Linked DNA regions of Homo sapiens: all the other regions are linked to region 1. The links come from fine-mapping of genetic effects on gene expression. A gene starts in region 1. Each other region holds a variant in brackets. All regions are shown on one strand. Distances are between the middles of the regions.

Region 1 (10,127 bases):
GTGAGAACATGTGGTATTTGGTTTTTTCTTCCTGTGTTAATTCGCTTGGGATAATGGCCTCCAGCCGCATCCATGTTGCTGCAAAGGACATCATTTCATCCTTTATTTTATGGCTGTGTAGTATTCCATGGTGTATATATACCACATTTTATTTATTCAGTCCACCATTGATGGGCACCTAGGTTGACTCCATGTCTTTGCTATGGTGAATAGTGCTGCAGTGAACATATGAGCACATGTGTCTTTTTTAGTAAGATAATTTATTTTCTTTTAGCTATATACCGAGTAATGTGATAGTTCTGAGTACCCTGTGAAATCTCCAAACTGCTTTCTACAGTAGCTGAACTAATTTACATTCCCACCAACAGTGTATAAGCGTTCCCTTTCCTCTGCAGCCCTGCCAACATCTGTTGTTTTTTGACTTTTTAATAATAGCTATTCTGACTAGTGTGAGATGGTATCTCATTATGGTTTTGATTTGCATTTCTCTGATGATTAGTGTTGTTAAGCATTTTTTCATATGTTTATTGGCCACTTGTCTGTCTTCTTTTGAGAAGTGGCTTTGCCCACTTTTTAATGGGGTTATTTGCTTTTTTCCTTGTTGAATTGTTTCTGGATATTAAACTTTTATCAGATGCATAGTTTGCAAATATTTTCTCCCATTCTGTAGGTTGTCTGTTACTCTGCTGATAGATTATTTTGCTGTGCACAAGCTTTTTAGTTTAATTAGGTCCCACTTGTCAATTTTTGTTTTTGTTGCTATTGCTTTTGAGGCCTTAGTCACAAATTCTTTCCCAAGGATGATGTCCAGAATGGTGTTTCCTAGGTTTTCTTCTATAATTCTTATAGTTTGAGGTCTTACACTTAAATCTTTAATCCATCTTGAGTTCAGTTTTGTATATGGTGAGAGGTAGGGGTCCAGTTTCTTTCTTCTGCATATGGCTAGCAAGCTATCCCAGCACTATTTATTGACTAGGTACTTTCCCCATTGCTTATTTTCTCAACTTTGTAACATTATGTCTGGGTTCTCTATTCTGTTCCATTGGTCTATGTGTCTGTTTTTGTACCAATGTCATGCTGTTTTTGTTCCTGTAGCCTTATAGTATAGTTTGAAGTCAGGTAATGTGATGCCTCTGACTCTGTTCTTTTTGCTTAGGATTGCTTTGTCTATTTGCACTGTTTTTTGGTTCCATACGAAAAATACAACAATTAGCCAGGCATGATGGTGGACACTTGTAATCCTAGCTACTCTGGAAGCTCAGGCAGGAGAATCGCTTGAGCCTGGGAGGTGGAGGTTACAGGGAGTTGAGATCACACCATTGCACTACAGCCTGGGCAACAGAGCGAGACTCTGTCTCCAAAAAACAAAAAAACAAAAACAACTGCTTATTGTAAGTTTTCATTTATGTGAAAACTCATCCACGCCAGCAGAAGTCAGGACAATGTTTACCCTTGCAGAGCATGGGGATAATAACCAGTAGGGGCATGAAAGGTTTTCCATATGCTGTCAACGTTCTTTTCTTTATTATTTATTTATTTACACAGCATTTCACTCTGTCATCCAGGCTGGAGTGCAGTGGCATAATTACAGCTCACTGCAGCCTCTACCTCCTGGGCTCAAATGATTTTCCCACCTCAGCCTCCTGAGTAGCTGCGACTACAGGCATGCGACTACAGGCATGCGCAACACCTGGCTTATTTTTTTATTTTTTGTAGAGACGGGGTTTCACCATATTGCCTAGGCTGGTCTTGAACTCTTGGGCTCCAGTGATCTTCTTGCATCAGCCACCCAAAGTGTTGAGATTACAGGCGTAAGCCACTGTGCCTGGCCAATGTTCTTCTTGATCTGGGAGCTGGTTATACGGTGCGGTCAATTTGTGGATATTTATCTGGTTTATCTACTTTTTTTTGCATGTATATTTCAATAAAATATTTTTAAAAAACATTCCTCTCCTGATGACTTAGTGGAGAAAATCTCAGCTTGGGTTTGACTTAACTTGAATGCTTCTTCTAAATTGTCTCATCTTTCTTAACTTGGGAAGAGTGTGCCAGCTTCAGAAGCTTCAGCAGGCAACAGTATCCAGCTCGAATCAAATAACATTGTCTTGTTTTCATTGTGTTTTATGGTTACCATCTATAGATGGCCATCAATACTACATTTCCATTTATGGTAGTGATATACAATTTCTTTTAAAAATGATCGTAAGCAAAAAAAAAAAAGAGTGAATTGCCTTACTTTAAAAAAATTATGTAAATAATAGTACAGGTGGTACCTAGTTACGGTAAACCATGTAAGGGTGGGGTTTATAAAACGTGGTTGAGATGGAAAAAGGCAGGGATTAAGGGGAAGGGAGAAAACCAGTCTTAGCCTGTCCCCATCTCTCAACCAATCCTCACTGCTGGGCACAGACAGGCTCTCAAGCCTGAGGACATACCTTTGCAGAGGACTCATGAGAAATCTAAAGTGAAGAATGCTCCAGGAACAATGGGATGGGCAAAGCCAGAGACAACAAGCGGAGAACCTGGATTCACTCAACAAATATTCTTTGAGTATCTCTGTGCAGGCACCGTTCTAGCCCTGGGCCTACAGTAATAAGCAAAATGGTTAAGTTGTAGGCCAGCCAGTAACCAGCTCTGGGTTCTGGGCTGAGTCCCCCTACTTCTCTAGGCTTCAATGGATTGAGGATGCTCTGTGATTCAAGCCTCTGTAGCAGCTGGCCTTTGGGGAGTGGGATTCTGAGTGAGGCTCAGGAGAGGTTAGGAAAAGCCTTAAAAATATGGGATTATTTTGTTATGTGTTTGCGTGTATTTAGGGTGGGGAAGGGTAAAATTGGCCATTAACCTGGGAACTAGGAGAAAAGAATTGGGTGTGGCCTTCAGGCTCATTAGAAAGTGAAATATCATTGAGTACTTTGCATTTGTCAAGTCAGCATCACTTTGCCTGCTCATCTCCACTGCTCTTGGCTGAAAGATCAAGAACTTTAAAAGGAGGTGGAAAGAGAATGAATCCCAAAAGATAAGTGAGTAGCTGCATGGGAATGAATGAATCAATGCCACTCTTAGCCTCTTAATAGACTCATCACAGCCTTTCATTCCCAGCTCCTGGGCATTGCAATTAAGACAGAAAGAGAATGAGGGGCCCTGCCAGGAATATTTTGAGAGACTGTACTTTTCATTCACTCAACAAATATTTATTGAGTGCTTACCTGGTGCCAGGCAGTATTTAGACCTGTGGGCTGTCCAATTTGATAGCTACCTAGCCACACATGGCTATCAAACATTTGAATTTTGGCTACTTCAAACTGAAATGTGCTGTATAGCATACACATCAGAACTTGAGGATTTAGTATAAGAAAAGGAATGTTAACTCTCTCATTAATTTTAGTGTTGATTACCCATTGAAATGATAGTATTTTGGATATACCGCCAAATTAAGAATATTATTAAAATAAATGTCATCTATTTCTTTTTACTATATTTTAATATGGCTACTAGAAATTTACAATTGCACATGTGCTCACGTTTGCGATTTGCAGTAGATTTCTATTGGACAGCGTTGTGCTAGACCCTGTGCCTACTCTGTAGGAGCTCAGTGGGTGGGACCAACAGAAACACGTTACAAAGCAGGCAGGAGACACCAGGGAGAATGAAGGTGGAATGACCATGATCCTTCCTGTGTCTTATTTTTATTTTTTTTAGATTGGCACTGTACATAGTGCTTTTTACTTCTTTTTTTTTTTTTTTTCAGATCGGCACCCTACATAGTGCTAACGATTTTTTTTTTTTTTTACTTTTTTTTCAGATCGGCACTCTACATAGTGCTAATGATTTCCAGAAGTCCAGCTCTGTCCATCTCTTCCTCTGCTCAAACATGGATGCTGTATCCTTACTGCCCAGCATATTAAGCCAAAGCGCCACAGTCAACTGGATTTCCTGCCTCCCCTGCTGCTCTCTGCAAGCATCCTGCACTCTGGCTGAAGTGGACTTTCTGATCCCCAAACTCATTTTCCCATTTCTCTCTCTCTCTCTCTCTCTCTCTCTCTCTCTCTCTCTCTCTGTGTGTGTGTGTGTGTGTGTGTGTGTGTGTTTTGAGACTGATTCTTACTCTGTCACCCAGGCTGGAGTGCAGTGGTGCGATCTTGGCTCACTGCAACTTCCACCTCCTGGGTTCAAGCGATTCTCCTGCCTCAGCCTCCCAAGTTGCTGGGACTACAGGCGTGCATCACCGTGCCTGGCTATTTTTTGTATTTTTAGTAGAGATGGGATTTCACCATGTTGGCCACGGTTGGCCAGGCTGGTCTTGAACTCCTGATCTCAGGTGATCCACCTGCCTCGGCCTCCCAAAGTGCTGGAATTACAGGTGTGAGCCACCGCGCCCGGCCCCATTTCTGTGTTTTTGCTTCAGGTGGTCCCTCTGCCTGTGCCCTTGCTAACCGCCCATTTCCTCTGGTAGAATTACAAGCTTCAATTTCAGCTCCGACTCACCCAAGAAACTCCCCTTTCCTCAACCACCACATCACCTCTCTACCAAAATATTTCTTTTCTTCAAAGCCTCTGATAAACATTTATTTATTTATTTTTTATCTTACCAAAGTCTTTCCCGATAACTCTTCCCAGCTTGGCGTCTTAAGACCAGGTACTTGCCTTCCTGGAGGCATCTAGGTCACCTTCAGAGCCAGGTGGCCATTGGGTTAACTAGCTGTTGAACTGAATCAAACAGGCTCTGAGCCTTGAAGTCAGAAAGAGCCAGAGTGGAGGGGTCTGGGGGGAAGAGGGGCGCTGAGGTATAGGGAGATGAAACCTGCGGTGGAGGCAGCTTAATGGTCCACCTGTCACCCAAGGAATCTCTCTGACAGGGGTCTTTGTTAGGGTCACACCCCAGGAGATGGTTGATTATGGCTGAGTCCAGCCTGGAATGATGGGGGTTGGGGGCAGCTTGGGTAGATGACTCAGTAAATCAAACAGAACAATGAAAGGAGGTCATGCTTGTCCATCTGCATTATTGAAGACAGCCATAAATGGCCTTACCCCAGAGCGGGTCTGTCACACCTGGAGAGCTGATCTGACCTCTCCAAGACCCCTGCAACTGAGTGTTCTGGGATCTGTCCTGCAACAAGTGCCTCGAGATTTGTAGGTGGGGGCCCAGGGTGCTAAGGGATTATTTTAGCGGGCGGAGAAGGGAGGGGGTCTGCAGACGAAGGGGGCAGGTTTTGCGGGGCACTTAGGGTTCTCATAGGTTGTAGTCACGAGCTCCCAGGTTTGGAAAACTGCAATAGTCACTAAGACCATTCGGGGCTGTTTGGGTCTAGCTTGGTCTAGACGGGTCTGAAACTCCGCAGGACCCACCCAACAAGAAGTCATTGTTCCAAGCCACGTGTCAGTGGTGGGTGATACCCCAGGATGGAAGGAGTTGGTATGAGCCGACTGAAATCTACTTGAAGGTCAAAACGGAGCCTTATGTCTTTTGTGTTCCCCAGCGGTTAGCCCAGTGCCGGCCACAGGGGAAGCGCGCAAACGAAGTCCTCGCGAACTGAACTGAGAGCAGACAAAAGCACGCGCTCTTCTCCACCGCCACGCCGGTCCTACCCAAACCCGCGAGTTATCCGTATTCTCCTTCAGGAGTCATAGTCAGGCCAGAAGAGTGCGGAGGGACGGGGCCCGGGAAGAGCAGGGAACCCCCAGAGCCCGCAGCCAACGCGGAGGTGGGCGAGCGGGCGTGCGCGCACTCACTTGCCGGCGCGAGGGAGTGTCGGGGGGGAAGGGAGTGGTCTCCAAAAGGGGGAGGGGAGAAGGCAGGGGGCGGGGAGAAGCCGGCCCTTTAGGACCCGGCTGCGGCGGCGAGGGAGGAGGAAGAAGCGGAGGAGGCGGCTCCCGCGCTCGCAGGGCCGTGCCACCTGCCCGCCCGCCCGCTCGCTCGCTCGCCCGCCGCGCCGCGCTGCCGACCGCCAGCATGCTGCCGAGAGTGGGCTGCCCCGCGCTGCCGCTGCCGCCGCCGCCGCTGCTGCCGCTGCTGCTGCTGCTACTGGGCGCGAGTGGCGGCGGCGGCGGGGCGCGCGCGGAGGTGCTGTTCCGCTGCCCGCCCTGCACACCCGAGCGCCTGGCCGCCTGCGGGCCCCCGCCGGTTGCGCCGCCCGCCGCGGTGGCCGCAGTGGCCGGAGGCGCCCGCATGCCATGCGCGGAGCTCGTCCGGGAGCCGGGCTGCGGCTGCTGCTCGGTGTGCGCCCGGCTGGAGGGCGAGGCGTGCGGCGTCTACACCCCGCGCTGCGGCCAGGGGCTGCGCTGCTATCCCCACCCGGGCTCCGAGCTGCCCCTGCAGGCGCTGGTCATGGGCGAGGGCACTTGTGAGAAGCGCCGGGACGCCGAGTATGGCGCCAGCCCGGAGCAGGTTGCAGGTAACGCGGTCTGGAACAAGTAGTTGGGAGAAACTTGGAGGGCAGCGGAGAAGCCCGACGGGCGGCTGGACCTTACGGACGGTTTTAGGGGCGGCAGAGCCGAGACCTTGGACCAAATCAAGGGGGACTGTTGCTAGCGGGACGCGGAAGTCAGGCCCGGGGAGGGGAACTGGAGTTAGAGCAAGTGGAAGAGCCCTGGCGACTCATTTGGTGGGGATGAATGGGGAGAGGAAAGGCATCCCTGCTGCCATAGTTTTACCCGCGTGGAACGGACCCAGACTTCTATTCTGGAGGAGGGATTTGCTGAGAAGGGGGCCGGTGGTCAGATCCATGGGAGTAGGAACTCGAATCTTATTTGGGGCACTGCTTGAGGACCCAAGGGTCCTGGTGGGATCGCTGCTGGGAGGCGGAGGCTGCGGGGTGCCAGTGACACCAGGAACCTTGGAAGAGGAGAGGGAGCTAGGAGGAGGCACCGGCGTCCCAAGGGGCCCTTCCTTCTACTGGGGTTGTGAGTTGGAAAGAAAGGACTTGGTACTTTGTAGGATGAGTCGCTTAGGAGAAAAATGAAAACCACCACTACTATTTCTCCATAGGGAACGAGCAGGGCTCTTGCTACCACGTTGAATGGAAAAATAAAAGGGAGGCATTTGGTAGGCGAGGGGTCTCCTAGCAGCTGAATCAATGTAACTTAAGCCCGATCGCCGGCTGCATTCCCTGGACGGGGGCAGCCAGGCTGTGCGGTTTCGCATCTGGGCCCCAGATCGAAAGGCAGGAGAGATGCGTTGCCACCCCCCACCCCCGCCCCTATCTTAAATTGAGGGACCCTTTCCTGTAGGATAGAATGAGGACCCGATATTCTTTGTTCAGGGGCCCTCATCCCTCCCAAAAAGTTATTTGAGGGACACAACCAGGCTCTAAGGAGGTTACTTTTTTTTTTTTTTAATTACGAAAGCCTCCTGCCCCAGTGGTCGGGAGGAAGCTGTAATTATTTTCTTTCCTCTTGGAGACAGTGGTGAAATGTGTCCACTGCCTGCTGCTGTTGTTGAAAAAGCAAGTGAGTCTTAAGTTTCTCAAACTTAAAAAGAAAAAGTGAAAAGAAGAATGCTTGCTTTTTAGCTTCTGAGGTCTTCGTAAGCCCCCCACCCCATGCACCAACCCGCCTCCCTTCTCCTGGTCGGCTATTGTTTTTTTCCCTGTTCTCCTTGAGAATGGAATTAGGGGTCAGAGTTGAAATCTTTCTTCTGTTTCTCTAGCACATTTTGCTCTGGAGTACAGAGCAAGTTAGGGCTTCCTCTGAGTGGAGCCTCTCAGTCCCTTTCTTCTCCCTCGGCTCGCTTCCTTCCCTAGCCTGCCTGGAAGTTAACCCTTCCCTCCTGCTTCTCTTAGAAAGTAACAATAAAAGGAAAAAGCCCCCACGAAATCCTTTCACTGCGGGGTGCCTGTCCCCCAGTCATGCGTTCCTCCTCATCACCCCTCGTGGTCCACCGGGGAGGTGCTGTGCAGTTTCTGAGCTGAACTCTGACAAACTAAACATCTTCCTCAGCAGGGTGAACTTTTTGAAAGGCCTCTAAGTTCATAGGATGGTTTGGCTGCTGACTGTTTTAATAAAGTGTGTGATGCCTTTCCTTCTTTAACGTTTTACTTTTTTTTTTTTCCTACTCTTCATTCGTCTTATTCTAAGCCTGAAAACCAATTCTACTTCCCAAATCCCTGAAGCCGGTTAGGGTCTTTAGCCAGGAACAGATGCGGCAGATTTTCTCCCATTCACTTTTCCCTGGAGCCTGAAGGGGGTGGGGGGTAGTTGTCAGGGGAGGCCAGGGACAATGGGGTGAGTTCATGGGAAGAATGTCACTCTGGATTTTCTGCCTGGTTATGGGACTCCCTTCCGCCAGCTTGCCCCAGCTGCGTTCTCCTCCCCAGTGCCCAGACGCCTTCCGCATTTTTGTGCACCGGCCTGGGAAGAGGGGATGTTAAGCAGGGGTGGAAGGTGGGGGGTGGGGCTGGAAGCTGAGTGGGTGCACTCAAAAGAAGTGACCAATGTCAGGGGTGCCTGAGAAAGAGTCGGGCTGGGGGAGGGGAGCACTTTGGGAAGGAGCCTGAGCTTGCAAGGGTGCAGGAGAAAAAGGGGTCAAGGTTGGAGGCTTTTGTGTGGGAGAGGGTCTTAGGCTGGGGCAGAGACTGGAGTCACTGGATGGAGAGTGCTGGGTCCGAGTTGGGTGGGGCCTGGCCCAGACGGAGATCTTAGCACTGAATCCTCTGCCTCCCACTCCATCTCCCGTCCCGTCTTCTCTCCTCTCCGAAGAATGAGCACCCCCCCTCCAGCCTGCATTCCTCTTTGAGCAGGTTGCTTTTGAGAATTTTAAACATACCCTCTTATTTCGAGGCAGCGAACCTCAGCAGTTCCGGCTTTGCTGTTAGCTCTTTTGTCTTTGTTCCCGGGACTCAGGGGCTGTGTTGCTGCTGGCTTCCTGGGGATGGCAAGGATGCAGGGGTGGGGGTGGGCACATCAGTGGGTGGAAGGAGTGGGTGGTGGTGAGCCTGTATCCCACGGGGACGATGGGCTGGGGCTTGTTGGTTCAAAGAAACTGAGAAGTCAGTCTTGGGGGAAGGGGTGGGTAGGCCTAGAAGAAAAACCGAAAGGAGACCCTGAGATCTGCTTGAAGTTGGGACTCTAAAAGCGTGTGTATGTGTTTGGTGGTGGAGTGGATAGAAGTGCCTAGAAATGTCAGGGTCGAGGAGGGAACAGGGTTGGGCCAGTCCAGGCCCTTTCAGAATTAAGGCTGGGCTAGACCGGTTCCTTCAGTATCTCCCCAGCCTCCTTCCCTACCGTGTACAATGCAGGGGATTATGCTGAGGGGCGGGGCCGCCCGAGTGGCCGTTTGGCCCGCTGCACGTATAAAGGTGCTACAGAAATGTGTAGTCGTTCAAAGTCCCAGGGCGGGCAGACAGGCAGGCAGGCAGGCGGGCGGGCGGGCGGGCGGGCGGGCCTGGGGAGGCTCTGCATCTGCAGTTGCCGGGGAAGAATAAAGGGGGGAAGAGGCAAGCACTGATTTACAGTGGTTCAGTGCAGCTTCAAAAAAAAAGGGGGAAAAAGCAATGGGACTTCTGGCTCAGAGTACTGCTTTGCATCTCGTCTTGCATAAATTTGCATACTGAGTTCAAAGTCGTAAAATAGACTAGGGAAATGAGTGGGATCTACTGTCACTGATTGTTAACACCACTACCTTCCACCTCCCCTCCCCCCATCTGGACAGAACTCCCGGCACTAGTTCTGCTAAGCAGCGCTGCCTGAGTCACCAGTCACCACTGTTCATGAAAGAAGGAGATGGGGAAGCGCCTGTCTAGGAGACCAAGCAGGGTGTGGCAGTGTGCACCCTGGCCTCGGAGGCAGGGCCTCTCTGAAGGGTGTGGCCCGACAGATTCTGGACCAGTGAGGCAAGTGGTGTTCTTTCTGACGCCTGGGGCTGCCGTTGCCCATGGTGGGCTGCAGTTTGAGGAAGCTGCAGAATCCGGGTCTTCTTTGTTTGAAATTTCCCTACTCAGCTTCCACATATGTCCAAAACATTTACTGTGATAAGTCCCTTTGTGTGGTGGTAATGACCCACTTCTTTAGACAAGATATTTGAGGAAGGTTCGAGAACAGAAAAATTCTACTTAACAATGTTAAGGAATCTGAGAAAAGTGGGGCACAGGAGTCTCTAGGTTAGAATAGGTGGTAGAGCCTGGAAGGAGAGA
Region 2 (10,127 bases), 47 kb before region 1:
CTAAGAATTCTAGTCTCTTCCATTCACAAGGAGCTATGAGGCCATTGGTGAGTGGATGGAGGGTGAGGGTGTGCAGGTGCTGCTGCTCAACTCAGACTCTCCCTGCCCCAGAGTAGAAGAGGCAGAGAACAAAGAGGGTGTGGTGTGGGTATGGGCCATGCATGACGGTGGATAGATCGGGACTGTCATGGTAGCAATAGCAGCAGAGTCAAGCTAAAGAGAAGCTGGACAGAGCAAAGCGCTGAAGAACATTTTCTTGACTTTCCTTTGGTCTATGCAAAGTGCCATTTACTCATTCATCCATCCGTCCATCCATTAAGCCTTCACTGAGTCCAAACTGTGCTCCAAGCACACAGTGAAGAGTTAAAGTTAACTAAGATAAGGTGGATCCCTCCCCTCCTAAGGTGTCAGAGTGGGTAAGGGTGTAGGTTTGGGTATCAAAAACCTGAGTTTGTCTTCCAGGTCTGTCACTTCTTTGGGTAAACTCTTTAACCTCTGTGTGACTCAATTTCCCTATGTGTAAAATTGGAATAATAGCAGTCCATATTAAAGGGATGCTCAGAGGAAGGTAAAGCACTTAGCATAAGGCATGGCACAGAATCAGTATTCCATAAGTGTCAGCTATTGTGTTACTATTAAGTGATGAGGCAGATATGTCAATAATTCACTGTTAGCTGACCTGGAGCCCTGGTAGATGGAGCCCATTGAAGGAAGCTGGAACATTCAGGCAGGAAACAGGCACGAAAAAAGAAAGGAGAGAAGATGACCCAAAATGCCACCATGGCATGTGTGTCTTGCTTTTATTTTTTATTTTTATTTTTTGGCTTCTACTTGGGCAGAAAAATAAACATATAGAAAAATCCCCATGAGAGGAGAATTCAGATGCCACGAAAATGTAGAGGGTACTCACACAAAGCCAAGCAGGTCTACCTGTGACCTCCCTCTATCTTTCAAAGAAGCCTGTGAGGTAGGTACTATCTACCACCTGTACTAGCTTCCTGGGGCTGCTGCAACAAATACCACAAACTGGGGGGCTTCAAACAACAGAGATATATTTTCTTGCAGTTCTAAAGCCCAGAGGTCTGAAATCAGTATTGCTGGGCTGAAATCAAGGTGTTGGCAGGTGTATCTGTTTGTTAAGGTTGCTATAACAAAGAAACACAGACTGGGCAGCTTAAAAGACAGAAATTTACTTTCTCACAGTTCCTGAGGCTGGAAGTCCAAGATCAAGGTGTTGGCAGGACTTTTCTCCTGAGGCTTGTCTCCTGGACTTGCAGGGGGCTCTTGCTCACTTCTTTGTCCTCACATGGTCTTTCCTCTGTGTATACACATCCCTGCTGTCTCTTCCTTTTCTTTCTTTCTTTTTTTTTTTTTTTTTTTTTTCTTGAGATGGAATCTTGCTCTGTCACCCAGGCTGGAGTGCAGTGGTGCTATCTCGGCTCACTGCAACCTCAGCCTCCTGGGTTCAAGCGATTCTCCTGCCTCAGCCTCCAGTCTCTTCCTCTTTTTATAAGGACATCAGTCCTATTGTATCAGGACCCCACCCTAGCAGCCTCATTTTAACTCACACACCTCTTTAAAGACCTTATCTCCAAATATACCTACATTCTGAGGCACTGGGGGTTGGGACTTCAACATATTACTTTCGGGGTGGTGACACAATTCAGCACATAACAGCAGGACCATGTTCCCTTGGGAGGCCCTGAGGGAAAATCAGTCCTGCTTCTTCCATACTCTGGTGACTGCTGGCATTCTTTGACTTGTGGCCACATCACTCCAATCTCTGTCTCAAGGGCCACTTTGACTCCCTCTTCTGTCTGTGTAATCTCATTCTACCTCCCTCTTACAAGGACATTTGTGATGGCATTTGGGGTTCACCAGGATAATCTTTTTATCTCAAGATCCTTAACTTAGTTATATCCGTAGAGACCTTTTTTCCAAATAAGGTAACATTTGCATGCTCCAGAAATTTGGATTTGGATATCCTTTGGGGGGGCCATTTTTCAGCCCCCCAAAACTGAGGCTCTGCAGGATGAAACAACCCACCCAATGTTATGGAGAGAACAGAGGCAGAGGCAGGTTTCCGAACACAGGGGACAGAGCTCAGTCCACGGTTCCTTCCAGTCCATGTATTAATAGCTGCACACCTTTGAAAGCAGGATGAGAGACATACTCTGCTAAGAAGGACGCCCTCACCCAGAGTTTTTCCTGCAGAGAGGAGGAGCACAGAAGCTCAGCAGAGACCGTGGGACCAGAGAATCATATTTGTGGTCAAGCAAGTTCCTAGAAGCAAGGAATGTGACGTGAGCTTCAGATCCAGAGAAACGTAATTTATCTTGGAGAATGACTCAGGTGCAAAGGGCCAAAGCTGCTGGAAGAGCACTGGGATGGTGACTCTGGGCAGGCCGCAGCTGAGTCGATGTTTACTCTCTTCAGAAATGAAGCAGTGGGCAGGGAAAAACTCACTGTGTCTCAAGCACAGAGACACTGGGAGGTAACCAGGCTCGATGAAGGTGGCCGCCTGCACAGTGGTTTGGACCCTGGTGTATATGTGTGTGTGTGTGTGTTTGTGTGTCGGGGAGGGAGGGGACAGGGCCAGGGCCAGGGATGCCGACAGGTGCTTTTCTGTTTGAGAAACATGCTTGCTACAAGCACAAGGAGCAGGTAGGATCACCAACCCACTGTAGTTTGCCGGGGACTTTCCCTGTGTAAGCACTGAAAATTCTATGTCCCAGGAAACCCCTTTTTCCTTGACAAACAGACACAGCTGGTCACTGTAGCTCCAGTACTCATTTGAATATAATGAATGCCTCAAGTCTATTTCACATGGCAAGGCCATGGCCATGGCTCTGTCGCCAAGCTGAATGGGAAGGAAAGGCAATTTGTCTTTGCAAATTGCCCCAAAACAAGCAATATAAAAAATGATGCAGCTGGGCGTGGTGGCTCACGTCTGTAATCCCAGCACTTTTGGGAGGCTGAGGCTGGCAGATCACTTTAGCTCAAGAGTTTGAGACCAGCTAGGCCAACATGGTGAAATCCCACATCTATTAAAAACACAAAAAATTAGCCCGGCATGTGCTTGTAATCCCAGCTAGCTGGGGGACTGAGGCAGGAGAATTGCTTGAATCCGGGGGGTGAAGTTTGCAGTGAGCTGAGATTGTGCCACTGCACTCCAGCCTGGCCAACAGTGAGATTCTGTCTCAAAAAAAAAAAAGACGCATTCATTATGTATGAGCTTGGCTGCCCTAACAGAGACTGCAAGTAACAGTGGCTTAGATGTAGTAGAAGGTCATTGTTCTTCCACTTAACAGCCGGGGCTTACACAAGTCAGAGTCAGCGTGGCAGCTCCATGAACAGGGTTCCCTCTGTCTGGTTGCTGAACCTTCTCTAGGGTGCTGCCCTGGTGCGCATGACCTACCACCTTCATGCTCCTCACCGTCCTCCGCCCTCTCAGCTCTCCCTCTCCACGTAAAGAGTTCCCTGTGTTACAGTTCCCCTGTGTAAGTGTCTAGAGAGCTTTCTGCTTTCCTAATTGGATGCTGACTGATACAACCTGTGACTTCAAAATGATAAGAGGTACAGAGAGAACATGGGCAGAGGAATGCCACAGACATACCCGTGGCAGACATATCTCAAGAAGTGAGACCAGAGAGAGGAGAAAGGGCATTGATGGCTTGATCTGAGACGGGAGGAACATCTTCTGGTTGTTGTTCATGAGCAGGTAGTTTGAGCTGCATGGAGCTGTAGAGTGGAGCTTGGGTGGAAGCTGATTCATGGGCTCCTGAGTGGAGGCTCCACAGATGGGAGTGGACTCGGGCAGCAGTCAGGGCTGAGCTGGGTGAGGAGGGAGGTCCTCAGCAGATTGGCTAGAGGAAGCAGGGGTGAAGCCAGGAAGGGTCAGCAAGGAGCAGGCAGTGGAGCAGTCAGAAGATCCTGCCTGAATGTTGGAAAGAGGAGGGAAGAGCAGCAGAGTCAGTAAGGAGAGGTGAGAGGCTCCTGGATGAAGAGGGAAGTCAGCAGGGGGCACCAGTGAAAGTCCCGGTTATGGGCTGACTTGTCTCCCCCCGAAATTCATATGCTAAAGACCTAACCCCAGTACCTTAGAATGTCACTGTACTTAGAGACAAAAACCTTTAAAGAGGTGATTAAGGTGAGCCCTAATCCAATTTGACTGGTTTCTTTATAAGAAGAAGAAATGAGGAGCCTGGCCAACATGGTGAAACCCCGTGTCTACTAAAAATACAAAAGTTAGCTGGGTGTGGTGGTGTGCTCCTCTAATCCCAGTTACTCATGAGTCTGAGGCAGGAGAATTGCTTGAACCC[G/A]GGAGGTGGAGGTTGCAGTGAGATGAGATTGCACCATTGTGCTCCAGCCTGGTAACAGAGTGAGACTCTATCTCAGAAAAAAAAGAGAAGAGAAAATGGGGACACAGAAATAATGTACAGAGGGAAGAAGCTGTGAGGACACAGGAAGAAGATGGTATCTACAAGCCAAGGACCATCTACAAGCCAAGGAGAGAGACCTCAGAAGACAACAACTCCACTGATACCTTGACCTTGGACTTTCAGCTTCCAGAACTGTAAAAATTAATTTCTGTTGTTTATAGAACAGTCTCCTGACCTTGGTCTGTGCTGTTTGTTACAGCAGCCCAAGCTGACTGATACAGTCCCTTACTTATCAGCGTATGTTGAATTCTTCCCAGCAACTATTTCTGGGAGCATTTTGCCTGATCAAACTTTTTCTTCTTTCTCTTTATTTTCTTTTACATATTAAAATTTATTCTTTTAAAAGAAAATTTAAATTTTATTTTCTTTTAAAAATGCATATAAAGATTATTAAATATAGATGTCCTTGTTATGCAGAATAAACAACTGTAAAAAATTTTTTTCATTTGTTTCAAACTTTCTTGATAAAATAATTAAACATTTCGATGATAGTTAAAATTTGACACAACCCTCAGCCCTTTCCTCTTCTCTCTTTCTTCAGAGGCAGTCACTATCAAGGAACTGATGTGAATTCTTTCAATCCATGTGTCCATGAATAGCATGTAGTATTAGTTTGTGTGGGTTTTATTTTTTTGCATTCACGATACATGTGTTGTGAATTTTGACTCTATCACTTCCAAACTTCATGTTTGCTACTTCCCAAAGTCTAGCAGGCAAATCATGGTACGAGAGATGTTAACTGGTACATGACTAGTAAGGCATTAAAGAACATTGAATGGGTCAGGCGCGGTGGCTCACGCCTGTAATCCCAGCACTTTGAGAGACCGAGGTGGGAAGATCACTTGAGGCTAGGAGTCCAAGACCAGCCTAGGCAACAAAGGGAGACTACACCTCTACAAAAACACAAAAATTAGCCGGGTATGGTGGCATGTGCCTGTAGTCTCAACTACTCAGGAGGCTGAGGTGGGAGGATTGCTGGAGCCTAGGAGCTGGAGGTTATAGTCAGCCATGATCACCCTCTGCACTCCAGCCTGGGTGACGGGGTGAGACCCTGTCTCCAAACAAACAAACAGACAAAAAAACATTGAATTGAATAAGGACATATTATTCCCTGCAGATTAAGTCTCAGGGGGACTAAGTATTAAACACTTGCTAATTTCCTTCCTTAACAAAGAGGAAGTACAGACTCTAAGCTAGCCAAGTTATCTGGCTAGATTTTCATACCATTGTCATTTTCCATGTGTTTATGTATTTGTTTACTTATTTTTTGAGACAGAGTCTTGCTCTGTTGCCCAGGCTGGAGTGCAGTGGTGCTATCTTGGCTCACTGTAACATCCACCTCCCAATTCAAATAATTCTCTTGCCTCAGCCTTCCGAGTCACTGGGGCTACATGTACCTGCCACCACACCTGGCTAATTTTTATATTTTTAGTAGTTGGCCAGGTTTGTCTTGATCTCCTGGCCTAAATTATTGATCCACCCACCTTTCTTTTTCTTTTTCTTTTTTTTTAAGACGGAGTTTCGCTCTTGTTGCCCAGGCTAGTGTGCAATGGGGCGATCTCAGCTCACCATAACCTCCGCCTCCCAGGTTCAAGTGATTCCCTTGCCTCAGCCTCCTGAGTAGCTAGGATTACAGGCATGTGCCACCACACCCAGCTAATTTCATATTTTTAGTACAGACGGGGTTTCTCCATGTTGGTCAGGCTGGTCTCAAACTCCCGACCTCAGATGATCTACCTGCCTTGGCCTCCCAAAGTGCTGGGATTACAGGTGTGAACCACTACACCCGGTACCGCCTTGGTCTTTCAAAGTGCTAGGATTATAGGCGTGAGCCACTGTGCCTGGCCCATGCACTTATTTTTATGATTAATTTATACTTAAGATGAATAATATTTGTCTTTCATTTTTGACAGTAGAATAAAGCTACCCTATAAAGTAAATTTATTAAAGTGTAAAAATTAGGTAGATTTAAATTTAAAGTATTAAGCCAATAATGGTACACATGGCATATGAATACTGAAAATTAGTGAAGGGCATTCATGAATGGGATTTTGGGAAAAGCTGATACCTACATTTATTGAGCACTCTGACTGCCACTGGCACTATAGAAGGCATTCTATATGCAATTTGTTGTAATCACACAACAACCCTGAAGAAGGGATGATTAGTCCCCTTTGGCAAATTAGGAAACTGAGGCCCAGAGGGGCGATGTGAGTGGCTGAGCCCACGTTTGAACTCTCTGATCCGAGACTCCTGTGCCTAGGCGATGTGTAATGTCTGAAGTCTTGTCTGTAAGATGAGTCTTAAGGCACACCTGAGCTAATGACTTCAAAGAGCTGCCTAGGGGGGCACATAAGGCAAGGATGCTGTCGTGCTTTGAAACATGTCAGAGTGGCTTCATGGCACATGCTAGTGCAGAAGGATCAGTGCTTGGGTCTGATGCTCTGCTATTGCCTCCTTGAGAATCTTAATACTTTTTCTTTAGCTGTGTTTGTATTTCAAGTCTGGTGGGATAATGCACAGGAGGCTTGACACCTCGTCTCACCTGCGGCCCACCCCCGACTGTCTCCCTGGGATGGGTTCTCTACAGCCCAATCTGGCCTCCCCCTCCCCACCCCCAACTCCATAGTGGTGGCTACCTTCTGCCCAGTGTGTTGATGGGCCACGTTCCACTATTAGTCGTCCTGGCCTGGATGCAGCCACAGACAGGGCTGGAGTTGGGCACGTTCCGCAGTATCTCACATGGGGCAAGGTTATGTCCCTCCTCAGGGTTGCAGTGCTGTGGCTTTTGCAGTGGACAACTGAGTATGAGCCTCTCATTCACCCTCATTCCAGGGAACCTGGCACCCAGGCACCCTGGCACCCTGGCATCAAGGTTGCAACTCCTGGGGAGATAGCCTGTCCTCTACAGGCTGAGGCAGTGGCTCATCTACAGGAAGGGGAGATCCACTTCCCCGCCCCCTGCCAGTCTCCACGTCCCATTTTGCTTTTGGCCTCACAAATGATGTAGTCGGCCCTGAATGCAGTACAAGTATAAGGAAGTGCCTAATGTGTGTGTCCCTGTGTGTGTTGTGTGTGTCCATGTGGAAAAGCAAGAAGACAAAGAGAAAAGCTCAGGAGAAAGGAAAAGCCTTCTCTTCCCTTGGGAAACCTCCAGGGCAGGGGAATCCACAGAGATATAGCCAAGCACACAGGACTGATGTCCCAAAAGGCAGCTCTCCTCTCCAATCCAGCAACTTGCTATGGGCCTCTGTTTATGCATCTGCAAAATGAAGGGTCTGGGAATGGGATGGAAATGGGAATCTATGGATTCTCTCCCCAGAAAAATGGGGATGTTACATGGGACTTCAAACCATCATAGCTGCCCCACTATGTGCCTGTGAAACTCACTGATGGGCCCCAGGGGCTCCAGGTTAGGAATCCCGGGACTGGAGAGTCTCTGATGTTCCTCCTGACATCCAACCGGGCAGGAAGAAGCAAGCAACCTAAGAAGGCTGAGTGGGTGGGAGGCGGGCTGAAGTGTAAAGGCACCAACTGCAACAGAAGAGAAAGCCTTAGTGAGACCCGTGAAAAGAGCAGAGTAATGAAGATGGTGCAGTGTGACGGTTATAAAATCCCCCTGGGAAATGAGGCAGTCAATTAAAAAGAAAGAAAATGAGGACAGACAAAGAAAAAGTCCATCTCCATAGAGTAGAAAGTGACAGGTTAGCAAAGCTGTCTCATGAGATGTGTGCACTAACAGTCCCTGGGGACCTTACCTGACTTCCATGGCGGGAGTGACAGCTCTGCCAGCTTGCTCTCTGATGGGCCACTGGAAGATTTCTGGGGCTAGCTGGCCAAAGCTCTGGAGAGAAAGAGTGAGTGGACACCAGCTTCAAAGAAAGTCACTCCAGGGCCCTGGGGTAAAGTAGCATAGAATAGAGATTTGAAGTGAGTGCAGCAACAAATGGCATAACAAAATGTTTAAATTCAAAAAAGGAAGCCCAGTGTCTGGGGAAATGAGCAAGTAAATGACCAGACACAACATGAGAAGGCCCAAAGGGAAAATCGGGGGAATTTCTGATATTCACAGAGATGTGATAAGTGGATGTTTTTGTTTGTGGGAGAAGACACGAAGGCTTGTGTTACATGTTTTGTAATTTAATTGCATAATTTGCACAAAATTTAAAACTCACACAAAACAGGACCAAATGTTATTCCCGGATACCTAGATTGAAAAAGAAGATTCTGCGAGGAGTGGACCAGGCTGAACACAGGAGTGGAATTATTTTTTCCAGAGTGTAGGCCCCCGTGAGAGCCAGAACCACAGGTCGGGAAGAGTGTTTGGACTCAGCCCTGGGTTTAAATCTGTCCTCTGCCACCCTGAGCACTGTGATTGTAGTTATTTAAGTTATTTAAATTGCAGTTTCATTGTTCTTCAAAAGGGGAAAGTAATATTTGTCATGCCTGTGCCACAGGGTGGTTTACAGGCTCTTATGGAAAAAATGTGTGTGTAATAGCTTTGTAAGCTGTAAATAACTTCAAATGTAAGACATTATTGCTTTGCTCATTTATTTGTTTATTACCAGTCCAAGTACTCCCATTATCCTAGCTAAACATAGTGTTTTCACAAAGTTAAACAAAGTTAAAGTACCGTAATAATTCAGTCCAGTCTGTCCTTCATTTTATTACTGTTATCAGGGGAACATGGGCTGGAATGGGGCTTTATCCAGTCATTCTTTTCACTTCTTTTTTCTTCTATTGGATCCATCATTCATTCAACACACAGTAACTGAGACCCTGCTGAGGGACAGACATCCCACAACTCACCAGGGCAATGAAGGCATGTGGCATTGTCTTTCCTGGGGGAGCTTGTTGGCTAGTGAGGGTTTTACATCCCATCAACAGAAAGGAAGGAACTCTCCCCACCTCCATTCACACTGAAGCTCAACTAAGTTCTATTTTAATTTTTGCCAAGCCAAAGCAGATTGTCCTCTGTTTCTAGAGATTAATTTGACGTCTGCCTGGGCCTCTGCTGGCTTTCCTCATTTTAGTTTTCCTGAGACCCGTCAGTTTTCTGCGTGGTGTGTAAATTGGCTTTCGAGACTCACAGTCTTTAGGCTTATTCTCAGAAGTATAGTCTCCATCTTCAGTATGTCTAACCAAACAAATTCCTCACTCCTTAGGGCTAAACTACTGAAACCATCCTTGGAAAGACTACTTTTAATTTTTTGATTTGTCACAGCTATGGAATATGATATCCTCTCCTTAAGCTGTAAACGCCTTAAAGACAAAAGCCTTTTTTCTCCCAAATTGTCCTAGATTCTAATTCCCACAGCTCAATATATGTTGAAGTGCTGGCCATGGGGTCTGTCATCTCTCTGGGGGAACCAACACTCAGGAAGGATGCGTCCACATTTCTCCTTAATCTGCTGCTTCCTTGGGGTGACTCCCTAAGCCAGAGCTGGGAACATGAAAAGCTGAGTCTCAGCCACGGTCATGCCCTCTGGAGGTCGATCACAGCCAGCTGGAGAAGTTCACCCAGGGGCTGTAGGAAGTACTGCCAAGAAGTGGAGGAGTGAAGCATCTGTCCGTGTGGGACGTGGGTACAGTTCCAGGGGAGGGTGTCACGGGTTTCTTATGGCCACGTACTGCGGAGCACAGCAGAGACGATACTTAAAATGAGAATTAGGTCTCAATGCCTTC
Region 3 (10,127 bases), 96 kb before region 1:
ACAAAACCTTGTCTCTACCCAAAATACAAAAAAATTAGCCGGGCGTGGTGGCACATCCCTATAGTACCAGCTACTTGGGAGGCTGAGGTGGGAAGATTGCTTGAGCTTAGGAGGCAGATGTTGCAGTGAGCTGAGATTGAGTCACTGCCCTCCAGCCTGGGTAACAGAGTGAGACCCTGTCTCAAAAACAAAAACAAAGAAAAGAAAAAGAAAAAAGAAAATTGCAGGGGGAGAATTATACATAATTTAGTGTGGTCTTGCTATGTTGCCCAGCAGATCTTGAACTCCTGGGCTCAAGTGGTCTTCCCACCTTGGCCTCCCAAAGTGCTGGGATTACAGGCATGTGCCACCGTGCCCAGCTGTATTGTAGGTTTTTTAAAAAATTCGTTGTTGATCACTTCTTTATTTTCTGGTATTTCAAGATATTCCAAACTCATTTTGTATATTTCTTGCTACAGTCCTACTAGAATCAGACATTTCTTCAAAGAACGCTAGTTCTTTTTATATTGGACAGTGTTACTAGAAACCAAGATCTGGATGCTAAGTGTACTTATAGCTACTGGGATGTTAAGTCACATTTTTAATTTGCTGAAAGCATTTAAGATTGCCTATATTTCTAGTCTCTCCTTAATTCCCTGATAATTCCTATTAAAACTAACTGGTCGCCTCACAGTTTCCCCAAAAGCCTTTGGGGTTTTACTCTTTTTGTTTGTTTGTTTTTTAAGATTTGTCCTCACTTTGTTTAAATCCTTCCTGTCCTTCAAGCTTTAGGCCTCCTTCTGCCACCACCTCCCACCCTACCACCCAGTTTCCTTTTTGACATTGCTGCCTCTTATCTCCTGCTTCAGGAGGCTCCAGCAATGCAAATGCAACAGAAGCCTGATTTATTCTTGGAAACAGTTCCATGAAAACCAAGCAGGAAGGAATTTAGAAAGGAATATAGCAGCTATATAATATCTTTTGCCTCTATTTTTTTAAAATTTAGTTTTGTGGTTTGAACCCAGATAGCCAGACTATCAGTTTTATTAGGGCTTTTTTTTTTTTTTTTTTTTTTGTCTTTCCAAGATTCAGATGGAAGCACCTGGATTGAGTTTTGTGACTCACGGCCAGAGCTGAACTTTGAATCCTGTGCCCAAGCACTGTATTTGTGAAGCAGCAGGAACAGAGAGAAGCAGTGAAGGTGGGCGATGCTTTGAGATCACTTTGTCCAGACTATCTAGTTTTACAGATGTGGAAACTAAGACCCAGGGAAGGGAAGAAATCATACCCAGAGACATATAACTCATATAACTCATTAAAGGAAGAGTTGGGTCTAGAAGAATTTTTTTTTTTTAACTATAGGATCGGCCAGGCTGTGTCTAGAATCTCTTTATTGGTGTTCCAGTGTGCTTTCTGCTGCGGTGTAAGGACTTAAGATTGTTTTCCCTAAGAAATTTGTCTTAAAATCCCCATCCTGTAACCCCGAGGCACCCAATGACATCCTGGTAGAGGGAGCAGCCCAGTTTTTCAAAGATGCATGCATTTTGGACCAGTGAGACCTGAATTGAAAGCCTAGCTCCATCCCTTAACAGCCATCTGATCTCCAGGCAATCTCTCAGATTCTCAGTTTTCTTATCTGTAAAATGGGCATAAGGATGCCTGGGCCACAGGTGTGTTTTATGGCTTAAGCAAAAGCATGGTTATGAAGGCACCTGGAGCATACCAAGCACATAACTGGTGCTCAGCATTTCTTCAAGGATCATTCTGTGGCTTCCCATGTGTATACCTGGTATCCTGAAACAAATAGAAACCTCCTGGGTTACTTTTACTTCCTTTGTGTCTCTACAAAACTGGACACACAACAGGTGTTCAAAAGCCCTTGCTGGATGAAGGAATGCCACAAAGCTCACCCCATAGGGAGACAATGGAGGGGCAAAAGGTGTTTGTGCAGTGTGAAGGAGAAGGAAAACAGGTGAGTGAGGCAGATGGGCGATGGAACAGCTGGGCCAAGCGCTCATTCTACATTCAGACTGAGTACTCTTCAGGGAGAGGGATTGCCTGAGGCTTCCCAGGGAGAGATATGCTGAGCCAGGCCTCTGCCCAGTGGTCAGGGTGGAGACTGGATAAAGAATCAGGGAGCCTGAAGCCCCTGTGCTTTCATCATTTCCAGCCTCCTGCCCCTGCTTGGGGCCTGGGCACGTTCACAGCTGAACAAGATGCGGCAGGAAACCCTGAATCAAGGGGGTGAAGGCATTAATGAAGCTGAGCTGACTTCTGGCTCTAAATTCCTTTCCCTTTGCTTCCAGGCTTGCTGTGGCCTGTTGTCTCTGCCCGGCAGAGTCTGGTGGCTGCTCTCATTTCACATCATATTGCGAGCTGGATGAAAGCAAGAACCAAGGCGGCTCAGCACGCATAAAGGCAAGTCAGAATCTGGAGACCAAGATTTATTGCTGCAGAGATGGGTGCCCTTTTTGTAGCATGACTTTTATGGAAAGGGCAGTTTTCTTTGCATTAAGTTTGTCTGTAAGAGTCAGTATGACCTAGAGCAGGGGCTAGCAAACTTTTTCTGAAAAAATTAGATAGGGAATATAGGCTTTAAGGGGCATGCAGTGTCTCCTGCAAATATTTCAACACTTCTGTTATAGCAGCCAATGTATAGTTGGCAGGACTATACATTATATAATGTATAGATGAACAGATGTGGCTGTGTTCCAGTAGAACTTTATTTATGGACACTAAAATTTAAATTCCATATAACTTTCATGTGTCACAAAATATTAATCTTTTCATTTTTTTCAACTATTTAGAAGTGTAAAAACCCACCTTGGCTTGATGGCCATACCAAAACAAGCCCTAGGTCAGATGGCAGAAGGCGGTCTGCAGACCTGTTCAGGGTACAGCATGGCCTTGGGAGTCAGACAGGCTTGGATTCAAACCCGGCCTCAGCTCTATGCTTGCTCTCCAACCTTGTTGGGTGACTTAATCTCTCTGAATCTATCCATATATAGGGACAATTTCCTATCCATATATAGGGATAATAACGTCTACCTTAGAGGTTGTTAGTGGGCAATAAGTGAAGTTACAAAGAACCTAACATGGACCATTTGAAGTCCTTGATAGGAGGATGTTATTATTATTGCTTCTCTCAACCTCATCCTTAAGAACACTAGTAATGAGAGCTGAAAGCAATATTCTACTCTGCACATCTACCCAGAACCTCTGAAGTCTATTTATAAAGGCAGTCATCATAGGCTTTTTACAAAAACTATAACGCCCTGCTTTTTGCCACAATTAACTCATCTTTTTTGTTCCAATTCACTTCAACTTAACACATGCTCACAAAGCACAACTTTGCACAAGGCTCAGAGTGCAGCAGGATTGGAAAGTTGAACTTGACACAGTTCCTGCCAAAAGATAGGTATCTCTCTAGAAGGGGACATAAGATACAAATCCAAACAACCATAAATCAAAAAAGCATGTGGAATAAGACCTCCAAGAGTGGCAATCATGTCTCCCATTTACTAAGTACCAGGCACTGTACTAAATGCTTTCTTTATATATGTTGATCTTATTATATAACCTCATGAGGAGGGGACTGTTATTATTCCCATTTGATAAGTGGGAGAATGGAGACAGGGAGATCATGAAGGTCCTTGCCAAAGGTCACACTTAAGTGAGCAGAGAACAGAGAATCAGAACAGAGATCCAGACCTGGCTGATGCAGGAGCCAGAACTTTCCCCACTGGCTTCAAGTGCCCCTGGAGCTCAGGAAGTCCATCCTGGCTCTGACGGCTGGGAAAGAGTCACAGAGGGGGCTTTCGAGCTGTCCCTGAAGCCTGGGGAGGTTTACTCCAGGCATGGATGGGAGTAGGGATGGGAGGATTCAGTCCCAGAACAGCGTGAGCAAATATGCTGCAGTGGGAATGTGGAATGCTCTCAGGCGTGTTGGGGGAACAGCAAGCAGCGTGGGAGTGTAGGGTGCATTCCGTACCAGTGTCCTTTCCCTCCGTGGACCTCCGGATGCCTCAGGGAGGGGCGGGGGAGAGGCAAAAGGTCTGATGACTTCACCAGACTTACATAAACAGGAACTTCCTTGCAACAAAGTATGAC[C/T]TTCTCATTTTAAAACAATTTGCCAGGCAGTGTATTCCACTCTTCAATCTTGCTTTTCTGTCCATAACTCCTCCCCCAACTTCCGGATTCTGCTTTCCTAGTGTGAAGGAGATGCCAAATTATGTCATAAAAACAGTGCTGGGCATAGAAGTGGCACGCGTCTGAACAGGCACTGTGTGACCCTAGGCTGGTCACTTTCCCTCTCTTGCCTCAGTTCCTGCAAACATAAAATTAGGAGTTAGGTGATAACCTGAGTGCTTTCCAGTGATAACCTTCCAAATTATGGCATACTAAGCCTGTCTCAGTAAGGGAAGCAGCCTTCACCTCTAGCTTGGAGTAGGTGATGCCACTTTGTAGCAACATTAAACAACTGCAGTTCCTGGACTTGATGGGGGCTGGGATTAGAATTTCGAGCCTTTAACTTGTCAATGTGCTGCTTAGATAACTTGCTCCTTACTGGAGTTCATGGGAATCCATGTTCTTTGCCCATCCATCCACCAACACATCAACTTTTAATTAATTCATTTATTTATCTACACCTAGTCCCTGGAGCCAGACTGCCTGAGTTTGAATCCTGGCTCTACTAGCTCTGTGACCATGGTTAAGTTACAGAACCTCTCTGTGCCTTAGTTTCTTCTTCTGTAAGACAGGGATAACAGTAGAATCTGCCTTACAGGGTTGTGAGGATTAAATTGGTTCATGTGTGCACACACACACACATAAATAAAATATCAAGTGCTTAAAACCACTCATGGCATGTAGTAAGCATGATATAAGTGTGTACTATTATTGTTATGTTTGAAGCATGTTTTAAGTAATAGTGTGTGCTGGATGCTCTGTTAGCATCTTTTTCTATGAAACATAGCACTCTTCCCTACTGCCTTACAAGGTAGGTGTTATGAGCCTGCTTTTCGTATGAAGAAATGAAGGATTGAAGAGTTGACATGCCTTTTCTGAGATGTGCCATGGACTAGGCTGCAGAGGACAACCAGACACATCAGCAGGGCCCAGGAGGGAGAGGCTGGAAAGAGCGGGCAGATCACTGCCTGCCCCTGTCACCTAATAGCCAGCTCACATGGCTTCCCTGCTCTGCTATCTGGTTCTTGCTGCAACCCAGACTCCTGCTGATGTCTTGTCTTGAACTGTGTAACCTGTCAACACATGAGAATCATTTGCAGCGACTGGGGAGTGACGTGATTCAGGAGCAGGGGAGGGGAGCTCGTGGAGAACAGAAAACTGCTGCTCCATTTTGGAGCTGCCTTTCAGCCTGGCCAAATGGGAAACTTCCTGCTTAGAAACAGTCAGGACATTAATACTCAGATGAGTGAAGACACACATGTCTCCACTAACATCCCAGGCGGATCAGACTGATTATGCCGCACTGTAGTGCAATTTCCTCTTGGTTTTTATTTCTTTGGCTCAACATTGTGCAGATGGTAAGCTCTGCTCACTGAAAATATGGAAATGATAAAATAGAAATATGAGACATTTGGATATCACTTGAGCTGAAACTTGACACTGCAGGTCTGATTGAAAATCCAGCAGGCCTCTTTCAAGACCCTTTACTGTGGCTCCTCGTTTGCTTCAGGAGGCCCCTGACAAACTTGCCCAGTTCTCCCTAAATCCTGCTATTGTTAGCTCTGGCCTGGGCCACCTGCTTTCTCCTCACCAGAGATATTCGGCCAGATGATCCTTACCATTAAAGTCCCAGGATGTGTGTGCATGAGCACACACACACACACACACACACCACATATGCACCACACACATGCGTGCACATAAGTGCACACACCACACATCACATATGTGCACACATACCACACACATGCACCACACGTGTGCACATATGCACATGCCACACCTGTACATGCACACACTGCACGCACACACATGCATACACATAAGCATATACCACATGCATACCATACATCACACACCACACACCATATACATGCATGCACATACAAAATTACATGCATCACACACCACACACATGCATGCACACATACCACACATACATACATCATACCTGCATGTATGCACACACACACACACCACACATACATCCCCACACACAAACACACATGCCTTTTAGGTGCTACCCAGGACTCCCCTTCTAGCTTTAAACTCTTCATGGAGAACTTTCTGCTGTCCACTGAACCTTTAGAGTTTCTCTTTCTTTTCTTTCTTTTTTTTTTTTGAGACTGAGTCTTGCTCTGCCACCCAGGCTGGAGCACAGTGGTGTTATCTTGGCTCACTGCAACCTCCGCCTCCCAGGTTCAAGCGATTCTTCTGCCTTAGCCTCCTGAGTAGCTGGGATTACAGGTGAGTGCCACCACGCCTGGCTAATTTTTGTGTATTTAGTAGAGATGGGTTTTCACCATGTTGGCCAGGCTGGTCTCGAACTCCTGACCTCAGGTGATCCACCCACCTCTGCCCCCCAAAGTGCTGGGATTACAAGCATGAGCCACCGCACCCAGCCACTGGAGTTTCTCTTTCATACTTTCCATGGGACAAAGCACCTTCCTCTGTCCTTTGAGCTCTATCTCCTTCCTCCTCCAGAGCCCAGTTTCCAGAGCACCTCCTCCAGAAAGTCCTCCTTATTTTCCCCATCTTTGGTCAGGCTTCTATTTGCCCTAGTGGCCTGTACCTGTTTTAAAGTCTGCTGTCAACACAGAGATGCAACTTTTTTAAAGTTTCAGGATGCCTTTCTCGTTCTCTAGGCCCTGCTGCACTGGAGCCCGGAGCCGTCACTCCTCTATACTTCTGGTGATTTCCGCATTGATTGCAGATTCCAAGGCAACTTGGGTCTCTGCAGTATCATTGGGGGCCGATTGGAATTCTTGAAACCCTCTTCCCCACCCCACTCTCTGACTAGACCAATTTTAGTTTAATCAAACCTCAAGACTATATTTTCACCTGTTCCCTTTAATAATTAACTTGCTTCGAGGAATCCAAGAGAACCCAGACACAGTGACTGCTGACCTAGTTACTGACCCATCCTAATGACGCCTCTCCCAGAGGTTCATCCTCCGGGCTCTGGCCCATTTCGTGTGAGAAAGTGAACTCCTATTGGGCACTGGTTTTGCTTCTGAAGCCAGGTGGAAATATTGGCCTACCCCCTTGACCCTACTTCTCATAGTGGTTTGGTGGTTAAAGGTCTATAGAGTAGAAAGATTATGCTGGCTTTGCTTTGTTTTAGGTTTTGTGTTTTAATCTCTTTAAACCCCAGTTTTTAATCCTATTGCTTTCAAGTCCTGATCTTGTCAAGGAAGACACCATCAATTGCACTGTTGTTGTACAACTCCAAACCTTCTGGGGCTTATCACTCTCAGAGCTGAGCTGAGGATGCTAAGGGGTCCTCAGGTGTCCTACAGCTGAGGGCAAGGCAAAGGCGTGCAGGCAGTCAGCTCCCCTGCATGGGTGCCATGCGGTCCCTGCAGCCTTGTTTCTCCTAGTTTCTCTAAGGTACTCCTGGGTCATTGCTCTCTCGATTTATTTGGGAGGGCTGCCATAATAAAGCACCATGGACTGGGGGCTGAACAACAGAAATTTATTTTCTCACAGTTCTGGAGGCTGGAAGTCCGAGATCAAGGTGTCAGCAGGGTTGGTTTCTTCTGAGGCCTCCCTCCCTGCCTTATAGATGGCTGTCTTCTCCCTGTGTCTTCACATGGTCTTTTCCTCTATACATGTCTGTGTCCAAATTCCCTCTTCTTTCAAGGACACCAGTCATAGTGGGTTAAAAGCCACCCTGATGATGTCATTTTAACTTAATCACCTCTTTAAAGACCCTATCTCTAAATACATTCACATTCTGAAGTGTTGGAGGTTAGAACTTCAACATAAGAATTTTTGGGGGAAAACACAGTTCAGCCCATAACATTTTCTGCTTTTTAAATACACACTGCCTGGTTTTAGGGCACCCTGAACCTTAATATAGCCTTCCTAGGGGATATTTCCTCTTCAGTAACATGTGAGCAAGAATACTGATCTCTTCCGATTGTTATGAAGGTTAAGTGCATGTGAAGTTTAATATAGCCTGGCTCATAAGTGCTTAGTAAATGTTAGAACCACTTAAGTAAATAAAAATGGTGATGATAATGATGGTGATGATGATGAAAATGAGCACCATTATTATTTGCAGATGTCTTAGTCATAACGAATTTCTTTTAATAGCACCTGATGATCATTTTGCTTGTGTCACTTTCATTTTACTTCTTTCTTTCCAAAAGAGGCTTGAGTGCGGCTGCCCAGCTCCCCAAGACTCAAGCCAAAGCTACTCTCTGTGCCTGCTGTGAGGATTTGAAAGCACTGTGGCAGGAGAGGCCCTGGGCCTGCCCACCACTCCCATCTCCTCTTGGTAACCAGGAAGCCCTGGGGCTCGCTTAGTCACAACTCACTCAGGCATCGTTTTTGACCTTGACACCTTCCCCTGCATTGTGCCAGGTGTCTGGGGCACTGCCAGCTCTCCCAGCCTGCCAAGCTGATTCTCTTCCTTCACTCAAATGACTGGGGAAACCTCATCTCCCCTCCAGCAGGGAGTCTCCCGGGACTGATCACAGGAAAGGTGCTGTGGGCACATAGCTATGTCACCCTCTCGCTATACACATCCGTGCTCGGCATGCACTCCAGGCACCTTCTGATAAAGGCATTCTGCCCAGTAATTTCCTTGCACACACAAGCATCCATGTGTCCATCTAGTTTAACATTTTTAAAAAATCTTCAATTATAAGGCTGAGTCTAATTTCATTCTCCATACATTACATGTACATAAACATGCCCAATGGAGAGGCTGGATCATTACCAAGTTTACCAAGCAGTCACACTTGTGCACTTTCTCTCCCTCCTTCATCCTGTTTCATGCTTCTGTGCCTTTGCATCTGCATTTCTCTGGAAGCACCTCTTCTGCCTTGTCCCTGTGTGAATGCCTGTCCTAAGGCCTAGATCAAGGCTCTAGGAGATGCGTCATGGACCCCAGGCACAGCCAGGACCCTCTGCTTTGATGGCTCCCTTGTGCCTTCGGTGGCATCTTGTCTGTGCTTACCATACTGTACTGTGATTGTCCATTTGTATAGCTTTCTCAGCTGGCCTGGGAGCTCCTCAAGGGCAGGGATGATTCATTCAACTTTGCATCCCCAGTGCCTAGCACAGTGCCTGGCTATAGGTGAGTGAAGCCAGAGAGGAGGGCTCTGGGATCCAGCCATGCTGGGCAGTGCCTTTCATGGCATTTTCTGTTTGGCCTCACCTCTTCCTTTGTCCTGTTTTTAGCCTAATTCCTTTCAAGGCTCTGGCATGGGACTCTGAGCTCATTTTCATGATTGCTTTAAATATTGGGGCTGTTGGCATGCCAACACGGGGACCCACGCTAAGGAGGGAGAGGAATTCTCCAGCTCTCTGGGTCCTGCCGAGACACAAGGAATGTGCCAGAGGCAGGGGAGGTTTTGAGAAAGTGCCAGTGTAGGTCGAACTAAACTGCTTTTTTACCTGGCTTAGGGAGCTAGGAATTTGGGTAGAAGACAAGAAAGTGAGAGGACACAGACGCCTTGGGGGAATACGATGGGGGCAGGGAGGGATGGCATTCCCAGAAGTCCAGGAGGACCCCCAGATGAAAGAGAAAGGGCAGCAGCAGGACAGACGTGGAGATGCAGTGTCTATGCCTGAAAATGACCAGGAGTCCCCTGGAGTAAATGCCTGGACATGAACAGTTCCAGGAGCCACTTCTGCAAAGCAGATAGACAGGAGGAGACTCTGGAAGTCTTGTCATGGAAGAACTAGGACACCACAAACATGAGCTTGTTAGTATAGGGAGGGGCCTCAGAAACCACCTTATGCAGCCTTACCACTTTATAGACAAGAAAGCGGAATCTTAGAGGTGACCAAGACCACACAGCTCATGGTGATAGCACCAGGACTGGAACCCAGGTCTCCTGTTCTCTTTCCAAGGCTCTCAGCCCCTCAAGGGCTGGAGAGGAGCTAGAATTAGGCCAATTTCATAACACCCAACAGGTGTTATAAATGTAATAGATTGCCTAACTTCT

The links.
Region 2: its variant is fine-mapped to the expression of IGFBP2 in whole blood (TOPMed, PIP above 0.99).
Region 3: its variant is fine-mapped to the expression of IGFBP2 in adrenal gland (GTEx, PIP above 0.99). The same link has a PIP of 0.9 or more in fibroblasts, lung and pituitary.

What each region holds. Positions count from the first base shown.
Region 1 is chr2:216,627,574-216,637,700 of GRCh38, forward strand. IGFBP2 (insulin like growth factor binding protein 2) reads left to right here and starts at 5,847. Exons shown (of 4, transcript NM_000597.3): 1 at 5,847-6,392. The coding sequence starts at 5,951.
Region 2 is chr2:216,581,012-216,591,138 of GRCh38, forward strand. LINC01280 (long intergenic non-protein coding RNA 1280) reads right to left here. Exons shown (of 4, transcript NR_110392.1): 4 at 8,982-10,072. Among named protein-coding and RNA genes, the nearest start is that of LINC01280, 21 kb to the right of the region's middle. The variant G/A (reference allele first, on the strand shown) is at 4,323.
Region 3 is chr2:216,531,636-216,541,762 of GRCh38, forward strand. No RefSeq gene overlaps it. Among named protein-coding and RNA genes, the nearest start is that of RPL37A, 38 kb to the left of the region's middle. RefSeq lists an enhancer at 8,175-8,264. The variant C/T (reference allele first, on the strand shown) is at 4,090.